2 separate regions of the Homo sapiens genome follow, and region 1 is linked to region 2. The links come from fine-mapping of genetic effects on gene expression. A gene starts in region 2. The other region holds a variant in brackets. All regions are shown on one strand. Distances are from middle to middle. Region 1 overlaps SCUBE1 (signal peptide, CUB domain and EGF like domain containing 1). Region 2 holds the start of SCUBE1 (signal peptide, CUB domain and EGF like domain containing 1).

Evidence for each region. PIP is the estimated chance that this variant, and not a neighbour inherited with it, causes the effect.
Region 1: its variant is the best candidate, but not a certain one, in a credible set for the expression of SCUBE1 in prefrontal cortex (ROSMAP, PIP 0.61).

What each region holds. Positions count from the first base shown.
Region 1 is chr22:43,297,251-43,300,147 of GRCh38, forward strand. The region is part of intron 3 of SCUBE1 (signal peptide, CUB domain and EGF like domain containing 1); the gene reads right to left. Among named protein-coding and RNA genes, the nearest start is that of SCUBE1-AS1, 23 kb to the left of the region's middle. The variant C/CA (reference allele first, on the strand shown) is at 1,801.
Region 2 is chr22:43,341,769-43,344,665 of GRCh38, forward strand. It overlaps SCUBE1 (signal peptide, CUB domain and EGF like domain containing 1), which reads right to left and starts at 1,604. Exons shown (of 22, transcript NM_173050.5): 1 at 1,406-1,604. The coding sequence starts at 1,493.

The DNA.
Region 1 (2,897 bases), 45 kb before region 2:
GGCTGCACACTTCTCCTGGGTCTCAGCCTCCAGCCTCTCCCTCCCAATCCCTTCTCCATGGGCAGTGGCTGCTGTGATGAGTCTGGCTGGAACAGGACATGGCACCTTGGTCCCACAGGGTCTCTGGGGTCAGGTCCCACCTCCTCACTGTGCAGTACCCAGCATGAGCACAGCTCTGGAGGCCGGGGTGGCGGCGGACGGCCCTCAGCTGTGACTCTTGCCCATCTCCACTCGGTCCTCACAGGCGCAGGCCACCTCCACCTGCTGCCAGCCACTGAAGGGTGATGTGTGGGAGGGGACCCCTGTGCTGTGATTGACATGGTTGTTTTCCAGCAAGAAGAATTTCCAGAGCTGACATCAGCAGGCCATAGGTTGACCCGCTTCCGAAAGGCCTCTGCAGGCAGGACCAGTTTCCCCGGGAGGTGTGCTTCTTGGCCCAAGATGCTGATGTTTGTTTTTATTAATAGCTGGCTGTTTGTTCTACTTTGGACCAAGAGTCCAGGTTCACAGTTATTTATAACAACTAAAAATTACTTCTGGATCCAGCTCTGGCTGCTTTGTGTTTCCCGCAAATATTTCCCGATTTGAAACAGAGACTCCGTGTTCTGCTTGGACCCACCCATGTTTTCATGGCTGTCAAGAGCCTACTGTGTGTCAGGCCCTCCACTGGCTCCGGTGTCCCAGCTCCCACGGAAGGTCTAGAAACAGAGGCAGAGGTGCCCAGCCCATCTTAGGAAGCGAACTCCACCTCCAGCACGGAGAGCTCCCACCTGGTCCCAGGGGGCTGAGGCCCCCACCGCCTGCCGGCTCCTTTCAGAAGGGCGGCTTAGGCAGAAAAGCCTCTTGGCTATCTAGCGGCTCTTGCAAAATTGCATTTGATGAGTTAAGTGTAAATAAATGAGAACCAGATGGATTAGATTTTGGGTAAAATACACACGGGTCTTAGAGCTTTGGGGCCTGGGTTCTGCCAGATCCAGAACACTCTCCGAGCTGTCAAGAGCTGCTGGCACAGGCGGCAGGAGGTATGCCTGGGGTCTCCCAGGACCTGTCTGCTTCCTGGTCTGGGCATCAGCTGAGGTCTTCCCTGGGGCTCCTGATTCCCCAGCAGGTTGGCCGTGTGCAGAAGACACAGAGCCAACCTCTTGGCCTGGGCCTGAGTCCAAGCTCAGGGTGGGAGATGAGGCGCATGAATGGTAAGGTCAGCTTTCCAGACCAGCAAGCTCACTGCTCACGTCCAAACCCAGCAAGCCAGCCCAGGGAAGGCAGAGGTGGTGAAGCCTGCTGGCCGCTGGGGTCTGCTCACTCTGCTCTCCGCAACCTGAGTCCTGCCTTCCAGCCCAGCCGCTGCCCTGCCGCCCCCTGCTGTGCATCTCTAGGGAAGGACGGGAGTCTACCGCCCAGTGCAGACCGCTGGCCAGTCCTCAAAGGGGTCTGCGTGATGCTGCCCTGTGACCACTGCCCATGGGACCTGGCTGTTGCTCTACAAGTCATACCAGATGGAGTACAAGATTCAGTGAGTCGACTGGGCTTGGTGGCTCACGCCTGTAATCCCAGCACTTTGGGAGGCTGAGGCGGGCGGATCACAAGGTCAGGAGATCAAGACCATCCTGGCTAACACGGTGAAACCCTGTCTCTACTAAAAATACAAAAAATTAGCCGGGCATGGTGGCGGGTGCCTGTAGTCCCAGCTGCTTGGGAGGCTGAGGCAGGAGCATGGTGTGAACCCGGGAGGCGGAGCTTGCAGTGAGCCAGACCGCACCACTGCACTCTGGCCTGGGGCGACACAGCGAGACTCCGTCT[C/CA]AAAAAAAAAAAAAAGAAAAAAGATTCAGTGAGTCTTTGCTGGTCACTTGCTCTGTGACCTTGAGCAGGTCATTTCACCATTTTGGGCCTTGGTTTCCTTCTCTATAAAACAGGGATAAAAGTCCCTGAGGTGTTTGGGAGTCAAAGGAGGTGATGGAGGTAATGTACTCTGCACAGCGCCTGGCACACACAGACCACCACCGAGTGTGAGCAGGTGCAGCACGAAGCCGCTGCTCATGGCCTCAGGGAATCACGGGTACGAACGTACTCCAGTGACAGCAAAGTCCCTTCCAAAATGCAAAAGCAACAACAAACCACATCAGAGGGGAGCACTCAGACCCGCCTCAGCCTTCTGGTCTCCAAGTGAAGCCGCTCGGCTCCTGACACTGTTCCCTCCTGAATAAGCTTCTGGCACACTCACCACCCAGGTCGCCCTTCTCTGGGGATCCCAGCTTACTGGGGCACTCACAATTGGCCCAGAAGTGGACAGAGCTGTGCACATGGTCTGCTTGGAGGATGTGGGTGGGACTTTTGATGCTATGTTCGTGTGACCTCTGCTATTTCTCCAATCCCGTTTCTGGTTGAGATAGAACTCATGGAGCACACAATTCACAATCTTTAAGCCGACATCTTAGTGGTTTTTAGTATATTCACCGTGTTGCACGACCATCACTACTAATTCCAGAATATTTCCATCATGCCAGAAAGAGGACCTGTGCCCGTTTTCGGTTAGTCCCAATTCCTACCCCTTCGCCCCTGGAAACCACATGTCTACTTTCCATCTATGGTTTGCCCATTCTGGACATTTCATGTAAAGAGAGTCATGCGATATTTGTCTTTGTGTGTCTGGCTTCCTTCACTTAGCATGTTTTCAAGCTGCATCCATGTCGTAGCGTGACTCAGCACTTCATTCCCTTTTACGGCTGAACAGTATTCTATTGCATGGACAGACCACATTTCATGTATCTCTTCGTGAGCTGATGGACATCCGGGTTGTGCTGGCTTTGTGGCTGTTATGAACGGTGCTGCTGAACACTGTGTGTAAGTTTTCGTGGGGGTATACGCCTTCAGCTCTCCTGGGTGGATACCTGGGGGTG
Region 2 (2,897 bases):
TGCTCCCTTTGACTCTGGTTTGCTTATGCTGGGGACATGCTGCTGGGGTTTCACAGTCACAGGGCTTCCACGGAGAGGGTCGTGGAGGAGACAGAGTCAGATACAGAGAGACACGAGGAGGGACACAGGTGGGGATAGGCACGCCCAGGAACAGTCACTCAGAGGTGAGGGACCCCAAAGCTTGGGAGAGACACCCACAGACACAAGGGGGATGATGGGGCAGCAGGGCTGGGCTTCCAGGAGGGGTGTTGCTGTGGAAGAGTCTCACAGGCCCAGCATCCTCACTCGGGGCACGCGGGACCACCAGGAATAGACCCTACGCCACCCATACCAGACCTCAGGAAGCCGGGAAGGACGTGCAGGACCCTCCCCCTGCCTCCCCCTCCAAGCAGAGCACCGGAGGAAGCGCCTCTGATGACGAGGAGGGGAGAATGTGACTCCAGCTTTTCGGGAAGCCCCTGAAGACAGAGAGCAGGAGGGGACCGGGTGGGAGGGTGGGGGGGTCCCCGTGAAACCCACGGGCCTGGGCCTGTGGCCTCCGGGTCTCCCCCTCCCCTTCCTGGGTCTGCTCCACCGACGTCCCGCGTCCGGACTCTCCTCCCTGTGTCTGTCCTCCGGATCCTCTGCCTTCCTTCCCTCTGTCTTTCCTCCCCGTCCTGTCAGACGGTCCCGGTCCCTCGTCTGCGGCTTTCCAGGTATCTCTGTCCCTCTCTCTTTCCCGGTCTCCCTCTCACCGCCCCCCCCAACCCCGTTTTTCTGCGGCGTCCATCTGTCCCCCGTCTCCTCCTCTCTCTCTCCCTTATCATCGGTGGGACCATCCCTCTTGATTCCCCCTGATCCACCGGCCTCCTCCTCCTTCCCCGGGCGGTGCGGGCCTCCTCTCTACCCTTCCGCATCTGTCTTTTCTCCGGGCTTCCTTTTGTCTGCTCCCTCGGCGCCGGCTCTTCTGTCCGTCTGTCCCGCACCTCCCGCCCCGTCCCGGTCTCTCGGTCCGTCCCTTTCCCCGTCCACCTCCTGGCGTGTCCCCCTCCGCCCGCCCCGCCCCGCGCCCCCTCTCCCAGGAGGAGCGCCCCTCTGCGCTCGGGGTCCCGCCCCGCCCAGGTCCGCACGCGGGGTCCCCGGGAACCGCCGCCTTTCTTCCTCGCTCCCGCGCTCGCGCTTCCCCTCCCGGGGCCCCGGCCCACCCACCCCTGGTGCGGCCCCGCCGGACTCAGGAGCCCCGGCCGCCCGGGCTGCGGGGAGGGGGCGCCCCGGGCCGGCCCTAGAAGTTACTTTGCAAAGAGGCAGGGGGCGCGGGGCCGCGCGGGGCGAGCTCGGGATCCGCGGGGAAGAAGCCCTCCGGGACCGCGCCTCGGCCGCCCGAGCCCCCCGCGCCCGCCGCCCCCCACCTCGGTCGGGGGCTTACCTGGGAGCCCGCTGCCCCCGGCCAGCCGCCCGCGTGTGCCCAGGGCCAGCAGCACGCACAAGTGCCAGCGCACGGCCGCCGCGCCCATGCTCAATGCGGGCCCCGCTGGGCGTGCGGGCGTGCGGGGCGCGGGGACCCGACCGACCGGCCGCTCCCGCAGGCGCTGCTCGCTGCTCGCCGCTCCGCCACCGCTCGGGCTCCCGAGCCGCCCAGCCAGCCCGGCTGATGAGCTGACAGCGCGCGCTCATTGGCCCGTGGCGTCGGAGGGGCGGGGCGTCGCCCAGGGCCGGCCAATGGGCGCCGGCCTCCGGCCCTCCGAGGAAGAGGGGGGCTCGGGCGTCGTCGGGGGGACCCTTCCCCTGGGGCGGGCGGCAGGTGGGGGGTGTGGGCCTGGCCGGCCGGCTCGCTAGGCGCGGGGTCTAGGCCAGGCTGGGGCTGCTTGGAGGCTGCGCCCTCCCCTGCCCGCGGCGCCCCGGCCCCCGCCGTCGAGAGTGGACGCCCCTCTGGGGTAACCCCTCCCGGCCCAGAGGCAGCCTCGGGGGCGGGGATCCTGCGAACCGGGGATCCCGTGAGGTCGCCCGCCATCCGTGGGCAGTGAAACGCGCCAGCGCGCAGAGCAGACTCGCCTGCGCTGCCGTTTGCTGGACGTTTCTTGAGCACCTACTGGGGACCGAGTGCGGGCGAGGCAGCAGCGAAGGAACCGGGAGGGGAAACCTCGTGAAGATCACTTGAAAATTGACGTTCAAAACAAACGAACTTTTTAGCACTCGTCAAAGGACAGTGGCCCGTCAGTGTGCTTGTCACGGGGCGGCCGCAGGACCTGCGTCTGGAACCGGGCGGGCGCCCGGGACGGACAATGCCGCTTGGCGGTCGGTCCCGCGGGAGGCCCCCGCACGGGGCTAACCTCGGCCGGCGAAGTTCGCTGCCCGGAATGCGAGGCCGAGGCCTCCCCCTGTGACAGACCGGGCGGGGCCAGGAGGAGGGGCAGGGCGGGCATCCCGGTCCGAAGACCCAGGAACTGCTCTGGCCTGGCCTGGGGTCTACACCTGACGCCTGGCGAGGGTTGGCTTCGGGTCTGGTCCCACCGGGCCTGGGAGGGACGGGCGGCTGGAAATAAATGGCCCCTCTCAGTTCCAGGCAGGACGCTTTAAGGGACGAAAGTTCAGCAAACCCCAAGGCCCATCTCCTTGACAACCACCAATAAGAGCTCCTTTTTTCTTCTCCTGCTCTCCAGGCCCAACTCAAAGACAACTCTTTTCTCTTTTTGTCCACTCTGCCTGCACCAGTTTGAGCCCCTCCACACCAGCTCCCTTTCCTGCCCCCAACACACACACGCACACACACACACACACACACACACACACACACACACACAGTCACACATGCAGACACATGCTCTCACGTGCAATCACTCAGACACAGCCTCACACCCTCACACCCTCCAGCACACACACGCTCACACATGCTTCTTCACGCCCTCATCCAACCTACC